Homo sapiens: one gene and its partners. The protein of the gene in region 3 purifies or fractionates together with the protein of the main gene of each other region. This does not show direct contact. Each region holds a gene or a part of one and is shown on either strand. Other genes may lie near its edges.

The links.
Region 1: the proteins of NOL7 (region 3) and UTP15 purify together in Homo sapiens (co-immunoprecipitation; 3 studies listed by BioGRID and IntAct, with this or other methods). This does not show direct contact.
Region 2: the proteins of NOL7 (region 3) and UTP4 purify together in Homo sapiens (co-immunoprecipitation; 3 studies listed by BioGRID and IntAct, with this or other methods). This does not show direct contact.
Region 4: the proteins of NOL7 (region 3) and CEP120 purify together in Homo sapiens (affinity purification with mass spectrometry; 2 studies listed by BioGRID and IntAct, with this or other methods). This does not show direct contact.
Region 5: the proteins of NOL7 (region 3) and RRP1B purify together in Homo sapiens (co-immunoprecipitation; one large-scale study listed by IntAct). This does not show direct contact.
Region 6: the proteins of NOL7 (region 3) and GNA11 purify together in Homo sapiens (affinity purification with mass spectrometry; one large-scale study listed by BioGRID and IntAct). This does not show direct contact.
Region 7: the proteins of NOL7 (region 3) and C1orf174 purify together in Homo sapiens (co-immunoprecipitation; one large-scale study listed by IntAct). This does not show direct contact.

What each region holds. Positions count from the first base shown.
Region 1 is NC_000005.10:73,575,743-73,579,242, reverse strand, and holds part of UTP15 (U3 small nucleolar RNA-associated protein 15 homolog), read right to left. Parts: intron 2,292-3,500; coding exon 2,207-2,291; intron 1,388-2,206; coding exon 1,238-1,387; intron 493-1,237; coding exon 391-492; intron 227-390; coding exon 93-226; intron 1-92. UniProt on the Homo sapiens protein: Ribosome biogenesis factor. Involved in nucleolar processing of pre-18S ribosomal RNA. Required for optimal pre-ribosomal RNA transcription by RNA polymerase I.
Region 2 is NC_000016.10:69,149,649-69,153,148, forward strand, and holds part of UTP4 (U3 small nucleolar RNA-associated protein 4 homolog), read left to right. Parts: intron 1-888; coding exon 889-1,060; intron 1,061-1,164; coding exon 1,165-1,256; intron 1,257-3,500. UniProt on the Homo sapiens protein: Ribosome biogenesis factor. Involved in nucleolar processing of pre-18S ribosomal RNA. Part of the small subunit (SSU) processome, first precursor of the small eukaryotic ribosomal subunit.
Region 3 is NC_000006.12:13,618,335-13,622,212, forward strand, and holds the end of NOL7 (U3 small nucleolar RNA-associated protein NOL7), read left to right. Parts: intron 1-1,873; coding exon 1,874-1,995; intron 1,996-2,073; coding exon 2,074-2,151; intron 2,152-2,419; coding exon 2,420-2,493; 3' UTR 2,494-3,378; downstream 3,379-3,878.
Region 4 is NC_000005.10:123,416,904-123,420,403, forward strand, and holds part of CEP120 (centrosomal protein of 120 kDa), read right to left. Parts: intron 1,613-3,500; coding exon 1,456-1,612; intron 1-1,455. UniProt on the Homo sapiens protein: Plays a role in the microtubule-dependent coupling of the nucleus and the centrosome.
Region 5 is NC_000021.9:43,669,560-43,673,059, reverse strand, and holds part of RRP1B (ribosomal RNA processing protein 1 homolog B), read right to left. Parts: intron 3,177-3,500; coding exon 3,094-3,176; intron 753-3,093; coding exon 695-752; intron 1-694. UniProt on the Homo sapiens protein: Positively regulates DNA damage-induced apoptosis by acting as a transcriptional coactivator of proapoptotic target genes of the transcriptional activator E2F1.
Region 6 is NC_000019.10:3,097,362-3,100,861, forward strand, and holds part of GNA11 (guanine nucleotide-binding protein subunit alpha-11), read left to right. Parts: intron 1-3,500. UniProt on the Homo sapiens protein: Guanine nucleotide-binding proteins (G proteins) function as transducers downstream of G protein-coupled receptors (GPCRs) in numerous signaling cascades.
Region 7 is NC_000001.11:3,890,273-3,893,772, forward strand, and holds part of C1orf174 (UPF0688 protein C1orf174), read right to left. Parts: intron 2,725-3,500; coding exon 2,611-2,724; exon of another isoform or gene 2,477-2,610; coding exon of another isoform or gene 2,469-2,476; intron 1,508-2,468; coding exon of another isoform or gene 1,354-1,507; intron 786-1,353; coding exon 297-785; intron 1-296.

The DNA of each region.
Region 1 (3,500 bases), on a different chromosome or scaffold from region 3:
AGTTCTCTACAAAGATCAAACTAAATGTCTTTTATTTGGTGATAAAGGATTTCAGATGCAAAATGTAAGTGTTTCACAGACAAAAAACATACCTTATCAAAAAATTAAGAACATGACTGATTTCCTTCTCATCCCGACCTGCAAGCGCATTTGCAAGGACTCCTCTTCGATTTAACTCCTTTATGATGGACACCGTAATCTCGGGTGTCTTTATTGTACAAGTGGGCTAGAAAAATTTTCAAAGTCAACATGAGTAGACAAAACAGCACAAAAAAAATCACTGTCTTGCACTAAATTATCAAGTTTGAATAATATTTATCTTCACAGTTCCAAGTCATGGTAATATGCAGGGTAAGTAATAACATGATTTTTTAAAAAATGCTCACTCACATCAAGAACTCTATCGAGTGCCTTAGAGATCCGAAAATGTTTCAGATCCCTGTCATACAATTCTAGGTGCTTCTTTGCTGGCCTGTTAATCAAAATGTCATCCTGCAATGAAAAGTACATTTATAGAGAAGGAAAATCAGCATCTGTGTAAATATACATTTAATATAAACTTTTTCATAATGAAGTGGTATCTCTGAACTATGTCACAAATAATGTTCATATGCCCATAATGTAGATTAAATAAAAATGCATCCTGCTAATCAGAGTCAAAAAAAGAAAAAAAAAAAGGAGTAACTTGCTACATCAACATGTTCTTACTCTCTTATAATTTTAACTTACAACATGCACCATTGCCTTAATTCTAGGTAAAAATTACTCATTTCAATTCTCTTTATGTGGCAGGCAGTGTGGTACAGTAGAAAGAGAAATCAAACAACAATCAGAGATAATGAGATCTAGTCTCAACAACTCTGGATACCAGTAATGAAATCCTGAATCAATCACAAATTATTTGTCGCTCAGTCTTCTCAGGTGCCAAACAGGGACATGATTGGTTCTACTACTTCTTGGGATTTAGATCAAATCAGGTAGTATGTGAAAGACATTATTTTGAATGCAGTAAAGCATTATAACATTATGTTATGATGCAGAGTATTACATAAAGTAGTCCTTGTTCCCCATTACTCATCAATAATGTCCCCAATCTAGCAATCTAGAAATAATTCTGATGTAGAGAAAAGCAAAATAAAGTGCCATGTGAACTACGCTTTCCAGTAATGTGCAGGGATGAAGCTGGCTACTCTAACAAATTTCACCCTTTAAACAAATATGAGAAATGCACAAATACCCGTTGCTTCATGTAATTTTTTCCTTTAATAAAGGTTCGATATGCAGGCCTTCTTCTTCTGGGAAGTGATTCCTTCTTTGCTTCAGATTTCCGATGTTTAACACTCAGTATTCCATTGGTCATTCCTACAACTATTGTCTCATCTTCATGCTAATAACAATTAGAAAAATAAGTTAGTCTATTCTTAACTCGTAATTTATAGTACTTTTACTTCAAAACACATTTACCATGTGTTTGCTGCTTGTCCATACATTCACCAACAGTTCCATTCAAATACACATAGTCTGCCTAACGATGATTGGTGCAAGACGTTAAAGCGAAATCATTTTTTCCTTAGGATACAACTACATTGACAGAACTTATACTTGTAAAATATCACTGGCAAAGTTTGTATAATACATAGTTAACGGCATCAAAGATTACACAGTAGCAAGACTTTTATGATCTTGCCCCCCAAAAATATTTTTAATAAGCTTTTCCTCTCCCAAATCAGATTTCTATATAATATAGTCAAATGCCTTCCTGCCCAAATGTGGCTTCTCATAAAACTTGACAGTATACATTTCAGAAAGAGCAGTAACAAAGAAAAGGAGATATTTCATTTTGTTGTCCCCTTCTCCCCACATCTTTTTTTCTGCTCAGAGAGCTAATCTGCCTTTCTAGTGTACTATAATACTCTTGAGTTAAATGAGTTGAAGAGAGATTTACCAGCTTCCCAGGTCCTGCGTTTAATGTTAACAATGCCTAGAGCACTGTATTTAGTTTGAAGTTCTACAGTGAGTGGGACCTAAATCTGAATTCATGCTGAGTCAATAGGACGAGTTACATATTCCAGCAATTGTCTTAACTCAAATATCTGATGTGGCAAGAAAAGTTACTCAAATCTAAAAATAAAGCCCAAAGTTCCATTTTAGTTTCATTTAACAGGCAGGGTTAGTGACAGACTTAAAAATAGGTAAAGGTACTTACTGCAAGGGCAAGACTCAAAATTGAAGCTGCATAATCAAAACTGTGGACTACTTTGTAGGAAGTTGTGCTGTATACTTTCACCTTCCTAATAAAAAGGAAAAGCTTTGTCAAAAATCACCTTGAAAACGAGTATAAAATGCAAATTTCTATTTTCTGAAAACAAAATACAAACATTAAAATCTGTACAACAGTGAAGAAAAACAAAGATTAGTAATGTTAATTACAAACTAATTCATCACTGAATCCCTTAAAAAATGAGCTGTAGGCCGGACACGGTGGCTCACACCTGTAATTCAAGCACTTTGGGAGGCCAAGGTGGGTGAATCACCTGAGGTCAGGAGTTCGAGACCAGCCTGACCAACATGGTGAAACTCCATCTCTACTAAAAATACAAAATAGCTGGGCGTGGTGGCACATGCCTGTAATCCCAGCTACTTGGGAAGCTGAGGCAGGAGAATTGCTTGAACCTGGGAGGTGGAGGCTGCAGTGAGCCAAGATTGTGCCACTGCACTCCAGCCTGGGCGACAAGAGCAAAGCTCTGTCTAAAAAAAAAAAAAAAGAGCTGTATACCAGCCCTAACTATAACATCCGTATAAAAACTTTGACTAGCCACTTATAAAAAAAATAGAAGGGCCGGGTGTGGTGGCTCAGGTCTGTAATCCCAGCACTTCGGGAGGCCAAGGTGGGCAGATCACTTGAGGCCAGGAGTTCAAGACCAGCCTGGCCAACACGGCATAACCCGATGTCTACCAAAAATAATAAAAACTAGCCAGGTGTGGTGACACACACCTGTAATCCCAGCTACTCAGGAGGCTGAGGCATGAGAATTGCTTCAACCTGGGAGGCAGAGGTTGCAGTGAGCCGAAATCGTGCCACTGCCCTCCAGCCTGGGCCACAGAGTAAGACTCTGTTTCAAAAATTTAAAAAGAAAAAAAGGAAAAAAAAAAAACAGAAGGACAGACCATGAGCCACTGTCATCTGAAGATCAAACTTGGGAGTAAAGAAAAGGTATTAGCCGGGTGCGGTGGCTCACACCTGTAGTAATCCCAGCACTTTTGGAGGCCGAGGTGGGCAGATCACCTGAGGTCGGGAGTTAAAGAGCAGCCTGACCAACATGGAGAAACCCTGTCTCTACTAAAAATACAAAATCAGCCGGGCATGGTGGCACATGCCTGTAATCTCGGCTACTTGGGAGCTGAAGCAGGAGAATCACATGAACCCAGGAGGCAGAAGGTGCGGTGAGCCGAGACCGCGCCATTGCACTCCAGCCTGGGCAACAAGAGTGAAACTCCAT
Region 2 (3,500 bases), on a different chromosome or scaffold from region 3:
CCTGAGTAGCTGGGACTACAGGTTTGTGCTGCTCTGCCCACCTTGTTTATTTAAGAAACTTTTTTATTGGTGTTTCTTGCATTTTTTTTTCTTTTTTTAAGCCAGAGTCTCGCCCTGTTGCCCAGGCTGGAGTGCAGTGGTGCGATCTTGGCGTACTGCAACCTCTGCCTCCCAGGTTCAAGTGATTCTCGTGCCTCAGCCGTCCAAATAGTTGGGATTACAGGCATGCGCCACCACGCCCAGCTAATTTTTGTATTTTTAGTAGCGACGGGGTTCACCATGTTGGCCAGGCTGGTCTCAAACTCCTGGCCTCAAGTGATCCACCCAGCTCAGCTTCTCAAAGTGCTGGGATTATAGGAGTGAGCCACCATGCCTGGCTGATGTTTCTTGGATATTTTTAATGAAATAAACGTTATTAAGAAACACCTGTTCTAGTTCCAAATAAAGGATTTTCAGTATTTTTATTGGTTTAATACATTTCTTTAGTGATAATAACTTGATCATGTTAAATATTCGTATTAAATAACATGATATGAATTTCTTTGTTAGGTTTTCTCTTATGTTCTTTCGAAGGATTTAAATTTCTCAAGTAGGTCCTAGGTATTTTCTCTCTCTCAATGCTATTCTAAGGAGATCTATGTTGGGTATATGAAGCGTTGCTGTACTGTAGACGTTAATTTTGTCAGTAGGGGGCGCATTGTTACCAGTGTCTGAGCTTGCTCCTTTGATGGAATCCTTAGCTTCTGGAAGGAAAAGACCCTTGTAACTTTCCTACTGATTCTGGGCATAGGTTTACCCCTAAGCTGCTGAGACAGAAAGCCTCGGAATATTTTTCCAACCAGACCTTGTTTTGCTTACGTGTACCTCCCTCATGATTTAATTCCTCAGCAAGAAGACAGTTTCGTGGTGGGCACAGCCGAGGGAACAGTCTTCCATTTTCAGCTGGTCCCTGTGACATCTAACAGCAGTGAGAAGCAGTGGGTGCGGACAAAACCGTTCCAGCATCACACTCATGACGTGCGCACTGTGGCCCACAGCCCAACAGCGCTGATATCTGGAGGTGGGTTCCCCCTCTGGTGAGGCTGCTGCTTTACCCTGCCCAGTTCTGGCTGTTCTCGTGAGGATGACTTCTAATTCTGTACACCTTCTCCCCTGCTTTCCCAGGCACTGACACCCACTTAGTCTTTCGTCCTCTCATGGAGAAGGTGGAAGTAAAGAATTACGATGCCGCTCTCCGAAAAATCACCTTTCCCCACGTAAGTGTCCATTCCAAGCCCCTGCTAACCCCTCATCTCCCCATCCCTGTGTCCCCCTGTCCCACAAGCTCTGAACACAGCTCACGCTCGGCAAATTTGTAGGACTTTTTTTTTTTTTTTGAGACAGAGTTTGCTCTTGTTGCCCAGGCTGGAGTGCAATGGCGCGATCTCGGCTCACCACAACCTCCACCTCCCGGGTTCAAGCGATTCTCCTGCCTCAGCCTCCCGAGTAGCTGGGATTACAGGCATGCGCCACCGCGCTCAGCTAATTTTATATCTTTAGTAGAGACTGGGTTTTTCCATGTTGGTCAGGCTGATCTCGGAACTCCCAACCTCAGGTGATCTGCCCGCCTCAGCCTCCCAAAGTGCTGGTATTACAAGTGTGAGCCACCACGCTCAGCTTTGTGGTCCTTTTTTTTTCTTTTTTTTTTTTTTTGAGACTGAGTCTCTCTCTGTCGCCCAGGCTGGAGTGCAGTGGTGCGACTCCACTCACTGCAAGCTCCGCCTCCCAGGTTCATGCCATTCTCCTGCCTCAGCCTTCCGAGTGGCTGGGACTACAGGTGCCCACCACCACGCCCGGCTAATTTTTTTATTTTTAGTAGAGGTGGGGTTTCACTGTGTTAACCAGGATGGTCTTGATCTCCTGACTTCGTGATACGCCCGCCTCGGCCTCCCAAAGTGCTGGGCTTACAGGCGTGAGCCACTGTGCCCAGCCCCTGCCTTTTTTTTTTTTTTAACCATCTGGGACATGGAGATATTGTAGGACTTTCTGTAGCTACCTTCTTCATTCCTTCTGTTTTTGAGGCAAGCCACTGCAAAGACATTTATGGGGGCAGGAGATATGCAGCAGCACACCTAGTTCAGTTTCTGGGGAAATTTTTCCCTTTTCCAAATAGTTGTGGGTTATGGGAATTTTGTTAGTTTGTCTTTCAGGGTAGGCTCTATTCTGGGTGGGAGCGGGAAAACCCAGGCTTCCAGTGTTCTAGGTAAATGGTACCATCTTCCCAAGCTAGAAAACTTGCTCCCCACACCTGCTGCCCCATTCATTCAAGCAGTAAACCTCATTGAGTCTACTCATCAGTATCTTTATACATATGTTATAGATATAGATAGATAGATAGATAGATCAACAGCTCTATTGAGGCATACTTGATATATTAAAAATCATACATATTTAATGCATATGGTTTGATGAGGTTGAACATAGTCCTCATAATCTCTTGAATCGAGTCATTCATTTCTCTTTGTCTACGCTGGCATCATCCTAGTTTGGATCAGTGTCTTTTCTCATCTGGGTTCCTTTACAGTAGCTTCTTAATCATGTCCTTTTATTTGCATTTGTGTCATTCTAGCCTATTCTTCATTGATCTTATTTTATTTTATTTGTTTTTGTTTTTTTGAGACAAGGTCTTGCTCCGTCACCCAGGCTGCACTGCAGTGGTGTAATCTTGGCTCACTGTAACCTCTGCTTCTTGAGCTCAAGCAGTCCTCCCACATCAGCCTCCCGAGTTGCTGGAGCTGCAGGCATGCGCCACCAGGCTCAGCTAATTTCTGTTTTTCTTTTTTTTTTTTTTTTTTTTTTGAGACAGAGCTTTGCTCTTGTTGCCCAGGCTGGAGTGTAGTAGTGAAATCTCGGCTCACTGCAACCTCAGTCTCCTGGGTTCAAGCGATTCTCCTGCCTCAGCCTCCCTAGTAGCTGGGATTACAGGCACCCGCCACCACGCCTAGGTAATTTTTTTTGTATTTTTAGTAGAGACAGGGTTTCACCATGTTGGCCAGGCTGGTCTTGAACTCCTGACCTCAGGTGATCCACCTGCCTTGGCCTCCCAAAGTGCTGGGATTACAGGCATGAGCCACTGTGCCCGGCCTCGGCTAATTTTTTTATTTTTTATTTTTTTTAATAGAGGCAAGATCTCACTATCTTGCCCAGGCCAGTCTCAAACTCCTGGTCTCAAGCAATCCTCGCACCTCAGCCTCTCGATTGCTGGCATTACAGGCATGAGCCACTGCTCCAGGCCCATTGATCTGTTTTAAAGCACCTTTGTTCATCACTCCATGCTTCAAAGCCTCTGGTTATCCCTGTTGGCTTCAGCATAAAGACAGTTTCCTTAGTGTGTCTTATAGAACCTGTCTCCATCCAGGCCTGGCCCTTCAGCTTCTTTTTGCACCTCTCGTGCTTGTAGCACCCCCACCCAGGCTAGCCATTCTCAAGGTCTTTTTGTTCCCTCAAATACTCTTACCTTT
Region 3 (3,878 bases):
CTTCCCGGGTTCACGCCATTCTCCTGCCTCAGCCTCCCGAGTAGCTGGGACTACAGGCGCCCGCCACCGCGCCCGGCTAATTTTTTGTATTTTTAGTAGAGACGGGGTTTCACCTTGTTAGCCAGGATGGTCTCGATCTCCTGACCTCATGATCCACCCGCCTCGGCCTCCCAAAGTGCTGGGATTACAGGCGTGAGCCACCGCGCCCGGCCGGGAAAATATTTTAATTAGTAGTAATTTCAGATTGTCGTCTCTGTGGAAAAACCAATTTTGGGCCGGGCATGTTTGCTTACACTTGTAATCCCAGCGTTTTGGGAGGCTGAAGCAGGTGGATTGCTTGAGTCCAGAATTTCAAGACCAGCCTAGGCAACATGGTAAAACCCAGTCTCTACACAAAATAAAAAAAGTAAGCTGGGCGTGCTGGTGTGCACCTGTATTCCCAGCTACTCCAGAGGCCAAGGTGGGAGGATCACTTGAGCCCAGGAGGTCGAGGCTGCAGTGAGGCGAGATTGTGCCACTGCACTACAGCCTGAGCGACAGAGTGAGACCCTGTCTCAAAAAAAAAATCGGTTTTCATAAAAAAATAAAGATCAGTTGAACACTTTGTCTTTGCAGGTCCTGCAGGTTAAGTTCAAAAACTTTTTTTTAGTGGTTTTATTATTGAGAAAATTTCATTTCACCTCTCCCAATAGATAGATGTTTATTTCAAGATACACTGCAGCCTACTGTCAGCACTTCAAACTTGCCAGCCTACTCTTATTCAGGCAGTTTAATTTTTCTGGCTGCTGAATGTTCCTCCAGTCACCAGCCCTTATGGTGCATGGTGCTGATGCAAAGACAGTCATTCCAATGGAAAGGTTGTTCACCACTATTGCCAGTCATGGCAATTCTTCAAAAGGAGTCATTTTTCACAAAATTCAACCTTTCCCTGACAATATGGCCTTATCTTCTATTCTTATGGTCTACAGAAGTCACAGAGAAAGTGCCTATTGCTGTTACTGGAATTTTGGCCGATACTGTGGACGATGTCTGTAGTATCTGTCTTGAAGTCCACAGGCATTCATTTGAGTTGCATTCAGTACAGCTTGGTGGTCCAAATCATTACTTGCAAATCGGTGTTTTAGCCACAAGATCAAATATAGAAACAAATGTAAAGCAAAGTGCAAGACCATGAGAGGAATTCATCACAGTATGTTGGACTTTTCATTTGGAAAAACTTATTTGGCACAATCGATTTGGAAATCATGCTGTCAATTCTCTTTTACTACATGTATCCGAACAATTTCCTGTTAACTAATGTTTTGACTTTTGGTTTTAGTATATTTTAGTACAAAAGTCCAGGAACAAGTTCTTCAGTTGGATCTATCTGAGATGCTGATTGTTCAACTGATGAACAAAACCACCATGTGCTCTACTAAAATATGAGTGTCTGTTTCTTGTAGTCCTTGTAATTTAGTTTTATCCTATCTGTGCATATATAAAATTAGTTTCATTTATCACTATGAGACAAATGATAAAAATATTTTAAAGTAAGCATGTAGCCTGGGCACGGTGGCTCATGCCTGTAATCCCAGCACTTTGGGAGGCCGAGGCTGGTGGATCACAAGGTCAGGAGTTCGAGACCAGCCTGGCCAACATGGTGAAACCCCGTCTCTACTGAAAATAAAAAAATTAGCTGGGCATGGTGGCAGGCACCTGTAATCCCACTATTCAGGAGGCTGAGGCAGGCAAGTTGCTTGAACCTGGGAGGCAGAAGTTGCAGTGAGCTGAGATCGCGCAGCCTGGGTGACAGAGCGAGACTCTGTCTCAGGAAGAAAAAAAAAAGAAAGTAAGCATGTGTAATTCTTATTTAACCTTTTATATTGATCAACAGCCAGAATAAAAGCTACTTGGCCGTAAGGCTAAAAGACCAAGATCTGAGAGATTCAAGGCAACAAGCAGCACAAGCCTTCATACATAATTCATTATATGGGCCAGGAACCAACAGGACTACTGGTAATTTTTTTATGGACTATTTTTCTCACTTTTTACTGCAAATAAAACTGTGAAATGATAAATACCTTTCTTTTCTAGTAAATAAGTTCCTGTCTCTTGCCAACAAGAGGTTACCAGTGAAAAGAGCTGCTGTCCAGTTTTTGAATAATGCTTGGGGTAAGATCCAGCTTTATTCTCCTGTCTCTAATAGCTTTATATGTTGAATAATGTTCTTTTGAAGGAGATAGTTCATAATTATACTTTTCCCCCTTATAATGGCTTATATATTAAGTTACTTGTGAAAAACAGGTCAATGTAGTATGTATATACATCTAAAGTATAATAAGCCCACCCAGTTTTAGTAATTACATTCATATAGAGTAATTAAAAAAATTTTGAATTATGTTTTTCTAATATACTTACTGCAGAAAACTTTATATTCTAGGAATCCAAAAAAAACAAAATGCCAAGAGGTTTAAAAGACGGTGGATGGTCAGAAAGATGAAAACTAAGAAGTAAATCAATGCTAAATGAAGAATCTGTACTTTGTATGTATAGAATTTATCTAATAAATCATTCATAGATCATTTTAAAGGATCATTATAAAAATCATAAACCTATTTGAGGAAGTGCTCAACCACATTTCATTCTTCTGGAGTAGAACTGTGCCTTGCAATCCTAGAGGAAAAAGTGGTTTAAGAAGGAATTGTTTTCTTTTTAATATATTTAACTGAATTCAAGCCATACCCACATCAGCAACAGCACCTCTTCTACTCTCCCCGGGTTAGAGGGGTGGCAAAAATGGCACGGACTAAAAGGAGAAATGGATATTCCAGCAAAGTCTCTAACTGCAGCCTGTAGACAATTTGCTATTAAAGATTCAGTGCACAAAATATAGCTAACAGCTTTTAAATTTTTACTTTTAACCAGTCTGGGGATTTGCTTGCCTGGTGAGTCTCATATGCCATATTATGAATATGAAAATAATGAAGTTAATTTCCTGTTGCCTTTCTGTGTCAGCCACAATATCAGGTCTAACCCTAATCCAGGGATGCCAGTAAACTGAAGGCAATTTTAGGTTGTAGAACTCAGATTAATTGTAGAAACCATTAATTTTAATTGCTCTAATTTTCATAGTAATCATAAAAAGTATGCAAGTACCTAATATATAAACTCAATTGACACTGTATCTGTAGAAGTAAATTTTTAATGGCTGGTTAATTATATCACTACATTTTATTGCAATATAGTACTCATTTAAGCACTTAAAAATGGAAGGTGTACAAAGATTAAATTAAGACACGGTAAATTGACTAAATATTTGGTTTTTATATAAATAAAGGTCATAACCACACCGTTGACATGTAATACTGTTATAATACAACAGTTAAACTTGTGAGTCTACAACAGAAGTCATCTGTAGTTAAACAGGAAACAAAGTTGAAAAAGACCATGTTAAAACAAAACTACTGGGACTAACAGGTCGGGATTGTAAGTAGCAACAAACATATTCACTCAGCTCCTGAGTATTTCAAGTTTTACAGTACACATTAAAAATGATTTCTTCCATCAACACTATAAATTCAAACTGTCGGATGTTTATGCATTTTGCAAGTTACACTGATTGAATGCTTATATGGGAGTGGGGGTCGGAACATCTCCCAATTTGAAGTTTACATCACCCACATGCTAACACAAACACAACTTGTTCCATTTCCTTCCCCTCTCTCCCCCCTCCCCCACAAAGAAGGCAGGATTTTTGGTTTCTTTTAGGTAATTGTTTTAAAGGATTTGTGATGATCAATTTGAACGTCTGAAATTCAGTAATATTTAACTCTTAGACAACTAAGAGGTTAAAGATGGAAAATAATTTCTCCTAACACTAAGTTAGAAAATCATTTGCA
Region 4 (3,500 bases), on a different chromosome or scaffold from region 3:
TTAATAATATAACACATAACAGTGTTCTGAAAGAATGATATTGGCTTGTTTAGCATGGGCTGTTTTAGTTCGGAACCCCTCAACTGGCTCATGCATTAAGCTGAATGGATTTTGCCACTGCTTTTATCTAGTGGAGTTATTATAGAACTGCACTTAGCACAAAATCATCACTTATAAATTCAATTTATCTGTATTTTCTCAGCCTACAACAATCAGAGTGGTACTAACCTGGCACTAACAAAATGGAAGCCCTAACAGCTCATAGCAGGACTCCATTATAGACACCACTGAAAGGAAATCCAACATTGATATTCTCTAAGAATGCAATACTTCTTCAAATAAATCCATGGACTACTCTAGCAACAGAGGTAAATAGAGTTTTCCTTGCTTTCCTTTTTTTTAACTTTCCATTTTGATTTAATTTAGTACTGAGAACAAGCAAGTATTAAAGTGATAACATGTTTTCCAGAAGAAAATATATTTTTAATCCTTAAATAAATAAGAGTATTGCTTTTATTGTTGTTGCCTGCTTCTAGTCAGAGTTCACAAAAAATATATACTATAACTTTAAGTCTATTTTATATACTAATAAAGTGGTTTTGTTTAAAATTAAATATAAATTAATTAGAAAGAAACCTTGATAGAATTACTTTCATAACTTTTCACTGGATACCCCTCTATATATCCTTGGCAAGCCAGGTAAATATACAATAAATAAATTAACAGAAATTACAAGGAATTCCAACCATATTTAATAATGAGTAGGTATCATCAAGGTATTTCTAGAATATCTACTGTCTCACACATTAGGAAAAAAAAAAAACCCAAACAGCTCAGTGTAAGTGTAGTGTAAAAGCTTAGGCTCTGAAGCTGGATTGCCTGGGCTCTACCACTACTAAGCTAACAGACTTAAAACAAGTTACTAATACTTAACATCTCAGGCCTCGGTTTCCTCATCTATAATATGGGCGAAATAAAAATAACAACTTCATAGTGTTGTTCTGATGTTTAACTGTTATTGTTGCAAAGTACTTTAAAAATTTCCTGTCACATTTAAAAAAACACTCAATAACTATAATTATTAAACGTAATGACAGATACAAAATTTATAGGTTGAACATTCCTAATTTGAAATGCTCCAAATTCTAAAACTTTGAGTGCTGACATAATGCCACAAACGGAAAATTCCACACACAAGCATTTAACATACTTCATTTTATGAAAATTTATTTAAAATATTATATAAAACTACCTTTGACTATGCGTATAATGTAAAACAAATAAATTTCATGTTTAGACTTGGGTCCCATCCCCAAGGTATCTTTGATTATGCAGATATTCCAAAAATCCGAAAATACTTCTGGTCCCAAGTATTAAATACTCAAACTGTATTTATTTATAACAGCCTGAAAAATAAGAAACCAATAAAGAAGCTAAAATGAAAATGATAATCACCTGTGCTGATGAAGCGCTTTCCTGTCAATTTCCCAAGCTAACTCAGTAGCAAATTCTGGCTGGTCAGTGTGGTCCACAGGATCAGTAGCCAACTGTTCTCCATCAAACTTTGCTTCCACTACAAGCATATGCTTTGGACGTTTGGGGAAATGCCGACCTGGAGAAACAGAATATATAGATTAATCAAAAGTGTACAAAAATCAAACAGGATCATTTACCATGTGTTTTTTTGTTTGGCTGGTTTTTTTTTTTTTTTGAGATGGAGTCTTACTCTGTTGCTTAGGCTGGAGTTCAGTAGCGCAATCTCAGCTCACTGCAACCTCCGCCTCCCAGGTTCACGCGATTCTCCTACCTGAGCCTCCCAAGTAGCTGGGATTACAGGTGCACACCACCAAACCCAGCTAATTTTTGTATTTTTAGTAGAGACAGGGTTTTGCCATGTTGGAACTCCTGACTTCAGGTGATCTACCTGCCTCGGCCTCCCAAAGTGCTGGGATTACAGGCATGAGCCACCATGCCCAGCCTAGCATGTGTTTTTTTAAAACTAATGATCTGTTAAGTGTGGTTGACATGCATTCCATAAGCTACCTCACTAATGCAGGCTCACATATACACTCACTTCCATAATTCATAAGAAACATGAATCAAATGGAAAGCTATAATTTATAAATGTGTGCTTCTCAAACATTAGTGTGCACATGAATCACCTAGGGACCCTGTTAAAATGTAGATTTTGACTCAGTAGATTTAGGGTGGGCCTAAGATTCCGCATTTCTAACAAGATCCAAGGTGATGTGAATGCTGCTGTCCTTGGTCCACACTTTGAGTAGGAATGATCTCAACAACATCTGGAATTAAACACTTAATGTGATTACACGAATTTTAGGTACTACTATTGCACTACTTAATAGAGAACAGTCATCTGAAGAGCTGGGAAATAAATTAGTAAAAACAAATTTGCCTGCAGCTTAATTTTTCTGTTAACTCAGTTAAGAATACTTTCCTGGTGAAACCCCGTCTCTACTAAAAATGCAAAAAATTAGCCGGGTGTGGTGGCATGCGCCTGTAGTCCCAGCTACTCGGGAGGCTGAGGCAGAACAGCTTGAACCCGGGAGGCAGAGGTGGCAGTGAGCACTGCACTCCAGCCTGGGCAACAGAGCAAGACTCCATCTCAAAAAAAAACAAAAACAAAAACAAAAAAAAAAAAACAGAATACTTTCCAAATTAGCTAAAGAAAAATAGCCACATGGATTCCTTCATTCTATTCTCAAGGACAACACTGTACACTATCAGGAAATATTCAAATATTCTATCTACACATCACTTTTCATTTGTACTGCCAAACCCCATTTCATCAATGTTTACTGAAGACATATTCAGAGTCAGGTATTTTATCAGATGGTGGGGTACAAAATGAGTAAAACAGAGTACTTGCTCTAAAAAAACTGAGGATCTAGTTAAGAGAAACAAACCAAAAAAAACTGAAAATAGGAAGCTAAAGAACATCAACGAAGAAGCACTAAGAATCTTGCACTGAGTCAACTAGTTCTCTTGTTTATAAATCTGTTAAGGTGGATCTTATTGAGGGGAATTTTATCCATTGATTAATGAAGAAATCCCTGCTGCTACTCACCCTGGTACAAGCTACTTGTGGGGGAAGTGTAGGAATTAAGCTGTTAAAAAGACCTTGACTGCTAACCTTGTGAGTTAAAGCCTGAGGCTCTCATTGAAACTCTGTATTAGGAGTATTAACACACATCGCACAGCTCTCCCAATTAGCATTAACAGAGGCCCATCTCAGGACCTCATTTTCTGCTGCTCCAAAAGATACCTAGCTTCCCCAAATGAATGTCATATATGTCAAAGAACCTATATTTTCCATATTATTATAACTAGCAGCTTCCAACAAGCTTGAGAACAGAGGATGTGAAGGGAACAAACAGATGCCTGCCTTGCTGCAGACAATGATACAGAGATAACAGAAATGGTCTTTTTCATCCTTGGAATCTAGTACATAGCCCAAATTTTGTTCATGGTAAAAGCTT
Region 5 (3,500 bases), on a different chromosome or scaffold from region 3:
TCTTCTGACCCACAGAACTAGCACTTTTTTATTCAAAAACAATTTTTGTTGATTTTTTGGCTTTATTTCTTTTTGCACAATTCTTTTTTCATCTTTGTAAATCTATTATACATCATATGTAGAATTTTGTTCAATATGAGTCAGCTAATATTCAGAGCACCACTGGGGGTGGTTGAAATCATTAGGATGCTTTTCTGAAGAGCATTAAGCAGAACAAACGAAGTCGGCTACCTTTTTCTTCCTTTATAAGCAATCAACGCCTGACACAGAAGCACCCTAACTAATTTTTTTTCTCTATGGTTGAGAGGAGTTACTTCATAGTCTGTGACCGGTGGTGTCTTCTATGTATTTATTACCAGTGACGGCTCTGCTCTTGGGGAAGACGAACCTGGCATCCAGAGGTCACCGTGGACCCTGCATCTGGCTCTCCAGGCTCCAAGTGTTAAAGTAACTCAGAATTTGAAGATTCTGGAGGATTGTTATTTCTAAAAGCATTTTCTGAAATCTTTGAGATGTCAAATTGATTCTCCCCAAGACACTGTGCCCTCTCACCAAGTCAATGACTAAGTTTATCACAGCTTTTAAAAACAGGAATGGCTTGTCCCCTGACATCTACACAATACCGGCACAAGGTTCCCATTAAACTAGCAAGTCGGAAAACTTGGAAGGAAGGAGAAGAAACAACAGGACTTACGAGCCGCTGAGTTGTTAACAGCATGGACTAGCTGTGCAATGGTGTTGGCGAGCTCTTCCTGCAGAGGCGGGGTTGGGGAGAAACATGGGGGTTATCGTGGGGCAACATGAGATGCCTGTGCCGCGGCCTGCTTCCTTCTCCCACTTCCGCTCGTGGGAAGGTCTGCCCCTCTTGTCACTTCCACTAAGAAGTATGTATCCGAATATCTGAATTTTATCAAATGTGTAAGTTCCAATATTGACGGACTATTATGCTAACTTGGTATGTCTGCAAGAACTGTGTTAAGCTACATGTTTAAAAAAGCATCTCTAATTATCAGTTCAGATGAACTAGAGATGAAATAAATTAGTTATCAGTTCCTGGCTTTATAACTATATCTGGCCACGTGCAGTGGCTCATGCCTGTAATCCTAGCACTTTGGGAGGCCGAGGCAGGTGGATCACCTGAGGTCAGGAGTTCAAGACCAGCCTGACCAAGATGGCACTCCCCACATCTCTACTAAAAATTCAAAAATTAGTCAGGCGTGGTGGCGTGTGCCTGTAGTTCCAGCTACTCGAGAGGCTGAGACAGAATTGCTTGAACTCGGAGGTAGAGGGTGCAGTGAGCCAAGATCATGCCATTGCACTCCAGCCTGGGTGACAGAGCTAGACTCCATCTCAAAACAACAACAACAACCAAAAAACCCCCATCTAAGCTGGGCTGGGCAGCTCATGCCTGTAATGGGAGCCCGAGCACTTTGGGAGGCCGAGGCGGGTGGATCGCTCGAGTCCAGGAGTTCAACGCCAGCCTAGGCAACACAATGAGACCCAGTCCCTACAAAAAATACAAAAATTAGCCAGGCATGGAGGCGTGCACCTGTAGTCCCAGCTACTCGGGTGGCTGAGGCAGGAGGATCAGCTGAGCAATAGGGAGGTTGGGGCTGTAGTGAGCCATGATGGCACCCCTGCACTTCAGCCTGGGCAACAGAGTGAAACTCTGTAAAAAAAAAAAAAAAAAAAGAAAACTTCATCATAATCCCAGAAATGATGTGAAACACAAAGACAGCAGGGCAGACCTCACAGAGGTGAGATGCTGGGGATGCTCACTGCACGCCATGGGAAAGTCCTCCCTACAGCTTGCTCAGAGACAAGGTGGAATGTGAAGGTAAACTCAGCCTTCTGGGCTCTGTCCTGGGTGAAGGGGTCCCTGAGAGAGCATGCCCTGCTGAGGTGCAGCAGGCTCACTCTGGGGAGACGCCCTCTCTTCTGAGGTTCCGTGAGAAAAGCACACTCCTCATCAGTCTGACTCACACCACACCCGGTCTGTTTTCCTTCGTGGGAAAATGAGATTTCTGTCCATTGGTTTTCTTCCTCCACTAAAGCTGTTGGTTGTTACTTTTGAATGTAATATAAAAATATTTTGCCCTGCTCCTACTCAAAATATGTTCAGTAAAATAAAAATAAATTAAAACAAGTTATTACGCAGCACGGGAGAAGTGGCAAGGCTGCACATTAAAACCCAGAAAAGTAAAATCTTGCCCTGAGGACCTGTCATCTGCATCAGAGACTTGCAAGCACTTCTCAAGGCTGGTTCCTCTACCTCAGGGGTGTCCAGTCTTTTGCCTTCCCTGGGTCACACTGGAAGAACTGTCTTGGGCCACACACAGTATACACTAACACTAGTAATAGTGAAGAGCTTAAAAAAAAAAATCTCATAAGGTCCTAAGAAAGTTTCCGAATTTGTGTTGGGCTGCATTCAAAGCCATCCTGGGCCACATGTGGCTGTGGGTTGGACAAGCCTGCTCTCCCTCTACAGAGGCAGATCGGATCTACTTTCATGGGTCAGAACAAAGCTTTTAAAAAGTGAAAGTCACATCTTTAGTGTTGGCTTTGGTGGTGGGCTTAGCGGGCTCAGCAGGCCCCGCACAGAGAGACCGAGCCTGCTGCGCGTTTGGGTGACTGCGCAGGCGCACTCGGCTTTAACAGGGAGGCTTTCGCTGAGCGCTACTGCTGCTCTCCATGGAACCCGAAGCCCAGTGACGCGGCTGCCCTCTCCTGGGTTTCACAGGGTCTTGACTAGTTAGTGCTCCTGTCATGCCATCCTTGACCACAAAAAATAAACTTACCAGAAGAGAGAAACTTTAAGTAATGTAAAACCTAGCATGGAACCTATGAAATTTTACAGAGAAATAGTAAATTGACAACGAATGCACATCTTTCCTTTTATTTGAAAAGACAATTCACCTAACTGTGTTGACCCTGCATCCCTTTCTGTATGGACAAGAGGTACGAAAATGACTCCTTGAAGCATGACTGTCAGTGTGCGTCAGTGTATCGGGGGACTGGCACAGCATGAGTGATCAAGTCTCTTATCCATCCACAGCAAGAACCCGGGAGCATGACAAAGGGAACGCATGTTACCTGTAGAAGGGGTTCATCCTGCACCCACATGCAGTAGAAGAGCCCCTTCCAGATTTTCAGAAGTTCTTCCTGACTGAAACCTCCTGGAAGGCAAAACAATACAAACATCTTAGAGTCTATGCATCTCTTTTCTTCAAGTTTAGAAAGTGGTGAAGTATCACATACATTTTAATTCTCTTTCGTTTGCACGTCTTTTTAAAAAATTGAAGCAAACATTTCCTTATTGTTATAAAAGAAACACAAATAAATTACTACTGTACCTGCAGCTTTATCAGCTACAGGGTAGGGTGGCAGTGGTGGCCCGGCCTCAGCGTGAGGAAGCAAATGTCATCACAACACAAAATTCATGAACAAAGTGGCCACTTATGAAATCGGCTCCTCATCAACGCCCTCCCCGCCCACCACGT
Region 6 (3,500 bases), on a different chromosome or scaffold from region 3:
CCCCCATGGCTCCCGTACAGCGTTGTGGAGTGGATGTCGGGGAGGGAGGCAGGGGCCTGCCACCACACCCCTGTGGCATCTGGGGCCCAGGAGGGTCTCGTTTATGTGGGTGGTGCTGGTTTCTTCCAGGCTCTGGGGCAGCAGGGCTCCAGGGCCCTGCCCTGACTCCTGGGTTTGCAACCAGGTGGAGCATGTTCTGGAAGAACGCCGCGTCTGCTCGCTCTCATCCACTGCCTCCCTGGGGCTGCACACGGCCTGTGAGGTCGGTCAGCCTGGCGAGGACATTCCGTGCCCCGTTTTCGGGGTGGGGGGGACCTTACGGAGCCCTAGAGCTGGACGGGGCTCCGGCTGCCGTGCCGCCTCTCCCGCGGCGGCTAAAATGTGCTGTTCACGCCTCAGATGGGCCTCTCCGTTACGTACAACAGGTCTCCCCGGGGCCCTGTGCACATTGGTCCGGGTTGGTCTCTGGGGTGGGGCTGCCCTGGGCACTGCAGGGTGCTGAGCAGTGTCCGAGGCCTCCACCCACTCCATGCCAGGAGCTCCCCCAAGTCGTGATAACCACAGATGTCTCTAGACAGTGCCCATTGTCCCTTGGGGGGCACGTTGCCCCCATTTGAGACCCTTTACTGTGTGGTAGCGTACAACGTAAAATGCTCGTGGCAAAGCTGAGGGATAATGAGTGCAAATTATTTTGTCAGAAGTTTCCATGAGTGCTTATAGAGTATTTTTCTAAGCACCGTCAAAGCCGTGTGTGTGTGAATTCACTACTCAGTGTATGCATGAATGTGAATGCATGTATTGTTTTATACCCGTGGTATTCCAGGTTTGTCCCTATGCACACTTCTGTCGATGCTGGTGACAGCTGTGGATGGGTACAGGAGTGGCAAGCACGTACTGCGCACTTAGTGCACACGCTGCTCCCGCCTCCGTCCGCGCCGCCGCCATCCTGGGGTCCGCCCTGTGGCCTGGAGAGCTCTTGCAGGCCCTGCCAGCAGCTCTTGGATCTGGGTTCCCATTCCCCAGGCCCGCTGGGCTTCTGCCTATCACGGGCAGCCCTCGGCTGTTAGGTTTCCGTCTCACTGGTAAACTGTGGAGGGGACCCCCGTATAGTTCTTTGTGGCAGGTTTGTGGTTGGAAACGTGGGGACTTCCATGGGAATGCCTGTTCCCAGGGCCTGAGGCTGCTAGCGAGGCTGAGCCGGAGTGGCTCCAGGCTTTCTAAATAAAGCAGGATGGTTAGTTCCGGAGGCTTCCTGTCCGGCCTGCGCCAGCCCCCACGGGGCAGTGACAAGGCCCGGGATCCAGCATGGGGTGCGGTGGCCCCACGGGAAGGGCCGGGCCTCTGTTGGCCCAGTGTTGGGAGGCGTGGAGCGTGGCCTCTGGCGCCTGGCAGGGTGGCTGTGCCGTGTCCCAGAAGACTCTGGGAGCAGGAAGCGCCCTTGGATGGCCTCGTCCAACCTTGACTTCCCAAGCCCGAGCCCAGGCCAGGGAGACGTGGGGACTTGGTCCGGGCCTGCTCTCACGTCCTTTGTGTTTACATGTAATCAGTTATGATGATTGTGGCTGAAAGGGTCTGCTTTTCCCGGGCATGGTCCGGGAAGCTCCGTTCCACAGCTGTGAGCTCCGTGGAGCTTCCTCCCGAGCCTCCTGCCCGGCTCTGCCGGTGCTGTAGTGAGAGTGGAGGAAGTGCTTTCCTCCGAGATTTAACCACGAGAGGTTTCACTTTCTGAGTCTTGTGGTGGAGCCTGTCTCTGTCTGGGACCTGGACCCTGGGCAGCACGGGGAGGACGCCGTGGCATCAGGAGGTTGGAGAGGTGTGTGGTGGAGTCGGACGGATCTTAGAGGGGCGCTCGCGGGGCCTGCTCGGCCCTACCCTGTAGACAGCTGGGACCCAGCGCCCCTTCTGGGTCCCCAGCAGGGCTGTGTTCTCCCCACTGGGCACCCCAGCTTGTGCGTGGAGGATGGGAAGCCTTGTATGGCTTGCCCACCTGGGTGACTGAGAGCGGTGGATGCGATTAGGGGCGGCCAGGGGCTCTGGGAAGGCCCACGTGCAGGGTCATTATCTGGCAGAAATTAAGTCCTTTCGCAGAACCGGGATCCTAAGTGCCGGTTTGCTGGCGTGCAGGTGGTTGCAGGTGCATGTAGCTCCTGCCGCCAGGCCCTGTGTGGAGCATCCCGCCCGGGGGGCCTCCCACCATGTCTGTCATCTGTAGGGCACCTGGCAGGTCTTAGAATTGGCTGCCCTGGATCCAGACTCTCGCTGTCATCTGGGCCTGGCCACATCCCTCCCCTGCCATCAAGATGTCTGTGGTCCAGTCTCCCACCCTCCATCCCCACTCCCTGCCTCTGGGTCAGAAGCCTCCGATGGTCTCTGCTGTGGGGGTTCCTGGTCCAGCCTGGCCTCCCGCAGTCTGCCGACAGGCGCTTTCAGGACAGCACTGGTGGGTGGGTCTTCGGGCCACCTGCAGGGCCTGGGAGCAGTGTGGTGTCCGGATCAGGTACGTGGCCTGGGGAGACTCAGGTTCAGAGCCTACCTCTGCCTCTTGTAACTGTGGGACTTCAGGTCTGTGCCTCAGTTTCCTCAGGGGGCGGTGGGGTGAGGACTCGGTGGTGATCCCCATCCTGCCGCACGTGGGGACCCACGGAATGCTGGCTGCTGCTTCCGCTGCCGGTGTGGTGATATCTTGTCGCGTCCACAGCACCTGGCGTGTGTGGCACACATTGGGTGCTCTGAGAAACTGCTCCATGGGGGATCCTGCCCTGGGATCTGGGATCTGGGATCTGCCCACAGACACCTTGATCAGGATTCCCCAGCCTCGGCTCCGTGGGTGTTTTACACTGGATCGTTCTCTGGGGTGGAGCTGTCTTGGGCACTGCAGGGTACTGAGCAGCGTCCCTGGCCTCCACCCACACCAGACCAGGAGCACCCCCAAGTTGTGACAACCACAGAAGTCCCCAGACATCGCCTAGTGTCCCTGGGAGCAGGACCCCTGACCCGTGTGTCTTAGCAGCCCCCTTCCCTTCTCGTCGCCATCGTCAGCTGCGTGTCCTTGGTCCCCTGCTTCCCTGCCCATGTCATTGAGCTGTGCAGGTCTCAGAGATGCTTGGCGAGTGACCGTCATTGGCTGACTGAAGGCAGATCACGCAGGGAAGTGGAGAGGAGTGGCCCGACACCTCCCCAATGCCCTGCAGGCTGGTCTGGTGCACGCCAGGGGTCTCTGCTGGGGCAGGCTCGGTTGCCACCTGCCTGTGGGCCTGTGCACTGGGCAGAAGGGGTCTCCGGGGACAGTGCGCAGCTGGCTCTCAGAAGCTTCTTTCTGAGTCCTGCCTGTGGCCTGGGCTGCCCTGGGCTGGCCAGCACGGGGCAGTGGGGGCACACTCTGGAGGGAGCCAGGGGCGAGTCACTTCCCTCTCCCGGCCTCAGTTTCCCCATCGGTCACGTGGGAAGGCTGTCCCTCCCCCTGTAGGATTGTGGAAGGATTAAATGAGCTGAGGCCAGTG
Region 7 (3,500 bases), on a different chromosome or scaffold from region 3:
TGCTGGGTTCAAAACAAAAGAAATTAACAGCAAGCGCGGGGTGGATGTTCAAAAAAACCACAAACCTGATTTCATGGAAACACACCTTTCCCGAGAGCAGTGATTCTCAGCTCGGGAGATGCAGGGAGAGCCCCCAATTAGCCAACGGTTTCATTTTCTCCTCGTGGGTTAAAATGATTAGTTTATGTTTAATGTTGTGTCGAGGCATTATTTACCTGCACTGAGTGGGGAGTGTGTGACCTGAATGTGCAGCTGCTGCCTGAGTACCCACGGGAGGAGGAAGGCGCCGCTCTTACCTGCATGAGCTCAACGTTTCCAAAGAACCGGCTCACGGGCATTGGCTGATTGCTGTCGTCATCTAGAAAGACGCTGTTGTCCATCTGAAGTGGTGGCTTCTGCACATCCTCTGTCTGTAGCCCTGGCTCATTCTGCTTCTGCACAGTGGAGCTGCTGTTGGATTCTTCTGCTCCGGACCCGGCACTGTGTTTTGGCACGGACAGGCCATCTCTAGTCTTTGCTAAGCGAGAGTCACTCACAACTCTGCAGCCACCGAGAGGAAGACTTGCAGCCCCCTGCTGCACAGAAACGCCAGCCTCGCTGCCTGGAAGCAAGGCACTGCCTTCAGCAAACTCATTTTCACAAGGGGTCTCAGGTGTCACTTTTGGCAAAGAAGCGCTGTCATTCTTAGGGACAAGCTTCTGTAATTCTGACTTCACAAGATGTCCTTTGTCACATTTGAACTTCTTGGACGTTCGCGTGTCTGTGGCTTTGTGGGATGAGGAAGTCTGTCAAGAAAAAAAATGTAAGGGGAACCAGACATATCTAGCAAATAAAACAGGCCTCAATCCAGAGGCTAGTATTTCTTCTCACATCGGAAATGATAAAGATGCTGTGACCACAACTTTCACAGATCGTCATTTCACTGTTTTGCCACCAAGGGACAAAATACAAGCGAGACTGAATCTAGACACACCCCACACCACTCCTACACTTTCAGTTTTCCCTAGTGGCGTTACAGCTCCACACCACTCCTACACTTTCAGTTTCCCCTAGTGGCGTTACAGCTCCTCAGGTGAATTCTGAAGCATATATTTATATATTATACAATTACAGTAAAAGAATCCAGCTTTCATTCATTTCTGCTAGGGCATAAGCTCTGTGAAGGCAGGGGTCTTTGCTTTATTCACCAATTAGTGCCTGGCACACAGTAGGTGCTCAAGAAATATTTGTGAAATTGACTTCGACAAAATTTTACCAAGCACCTCATCATGAGCAAAGCTCTGTGCTACACGCTGGCATATGGCCAAGTCCTAACCCCTCAACTGTAGGCTCCGTGAAGCGGCTCTACTTCACCGGTAAGTTCAGGAACTCGCTCCTCGGAATCGATGGCTGGGCTAGGGTGAACGGCAGACGGCATGAGATTCCTTTCCCCACCCACTCTGCCTTTCTCTTCAAGCCTCTGGCGGTGAGGCTGCACGGCAATGGGCCAGCATGACTCCATAGCACGCTAAGAGCAGAGCGATGAGCACAAGTGGCCTCAGAGCCTGGTTTAGACACACACACGGGTGGGCAGGTGCTAGGATCAGAGCCCGGGTCTAGACACACACACGGGTGGGAGGGTGCTAGGATCAGGGCCCGGGTCTAGACACACACACGGGTGGGCGGGTGCTAGGATCAGAGCCCGGGTCTAGACACACACACGGGTGGGCGGGTGCTAGGATCAGGGCCCGGGTCTAGACACACACACGGGTGGGCGGGTGCTAGGATCAGGGCCCGGGTCTAGACACACACACGGGTGGGCGGGTGCTAGGATCAGGGCCCGGGTCTAGACACACACACGGGTGGGCGGGTGCTAGGATCAGGGCCCGGGTCTAGACACACACACGGGTGGGCGGGTGCTAGGATCAGGGCCCGGGTCTAGACACACACACGGGTGGGCGGGTGCTAGGATCAGGGCCCGGGTCTAGACACACACACGGGTGGGCGGGTGCTAGGATCAGGGCCCGGGTCTAGACACACACACGGGTGGGCGGGTGCTAGGATCAGGGCCCGGGTCTAGACACACACACGGGTGGGCGGGTGCTAGGATCAGGGCCCGGGTCTAGACACACACACGGGTGGGCGGGTGCTAGGATCAGGGCCCGGGTCTAGACACACACACGGGTGGGCGGGTGCTAGGATCAGGGCCCGGGTCTAGACACACACACGGGTGGGAGGGTGCTAGGATCAGGGCCCGGGTCTAGACACACACACGGGTGGGAGGGTGCTAGGATCAGGGCCCGGGTCTAGACACACACACGGGTGGGCGGGTGCTAGGATCAGGGCCCGGGTCTAGACACACACACGGGTGGGCGGGTGCTAGGATCAGAGCCCGGGTCTAGACACACACACGGGTGGGCGGGTGCTAGGAGAGCCAGCCCTGGCCTGCAGAGTGTGTCTTTCTCTGAAGGCAATTACAGTGCTGTCACCTTTTCATCTGCAATAGTCCCCCTCTGGCAGATAAGTAACAGTCGATATTTTTCTAAAGCAACACATCTTGGAGTGGCAATTTTGTATAAAAATGGACCCTCGAGTCAGGATCTTGGCGTTCTCCACGGTAACAGGGCTCACCAGACATGCTGTCTTGGCAGACGTGGAACCAGCAACTTCCTGGGCAGAGGCCAACCTGGCTGCCGAACAACTTCGTGCTTTCAAGCGCGCTGAAGACCGCACTGCACCTGTGAGCTAGAGAGATTGAGAGCCACTCAGAGAGTGCTCTCAGGAAGGCAGCATGAACATGTAGACGAGAATTTCCCACCTAAAGAACACCCGAAGACCGCCCCTCCCACTCCCAGGATTTTATCATCTTTGTGGAGACAGCTGTGGCCCGAATGTGTAAATCCAAATGAAACTGTGCCTGGATTTAGGATACAGGATCTACTATTTCCACGATTTTGGAGGCTTGGGACGATCTGTCCCCCTTATCTTGTATATTTCTAGTAGCCACCATTTGTCCTTTAGTGGAAATTAAGTCAACTTCAAAGTGTTTAGAATAAGCAGCACATGCCCTTCCTTAGAAGGCTCTCCAACTTTCATACGTTGTCAAAGTTTTTAAAAAAAGGTAACATGAGGAAACCAAAGTTTCTCTTCCTCAAATTAGACTCCTATTCTATTAGCTGAATGCAGCTAGCGACTGTCTCACAAATTTTAATATTAACAAACTGGTCCACCTCTCTTTTATCCTGAATGCAAAGCAAACTCCTCTAATAACAAGAAAGAAATTAATTAAAGACATAACATTTAAAATAACTATTTAGGAATAATTTTCGGCATTCAGAAAGTTGCAAAAAATAGTACAAAGAAACTGGTGTGATAGCTCACACCTGTAATCCCAGCTACTTGGGAAGCTGAGGTAGGAGGATCGCTCGAGCCCAGGAGTTCAAGACCAGCCTGGGCAATACAGCGAAAGCCCATCTTTAAAAAATTTTTTTAAAAATTAGCCAGGTGTGGTGGTGTGCACC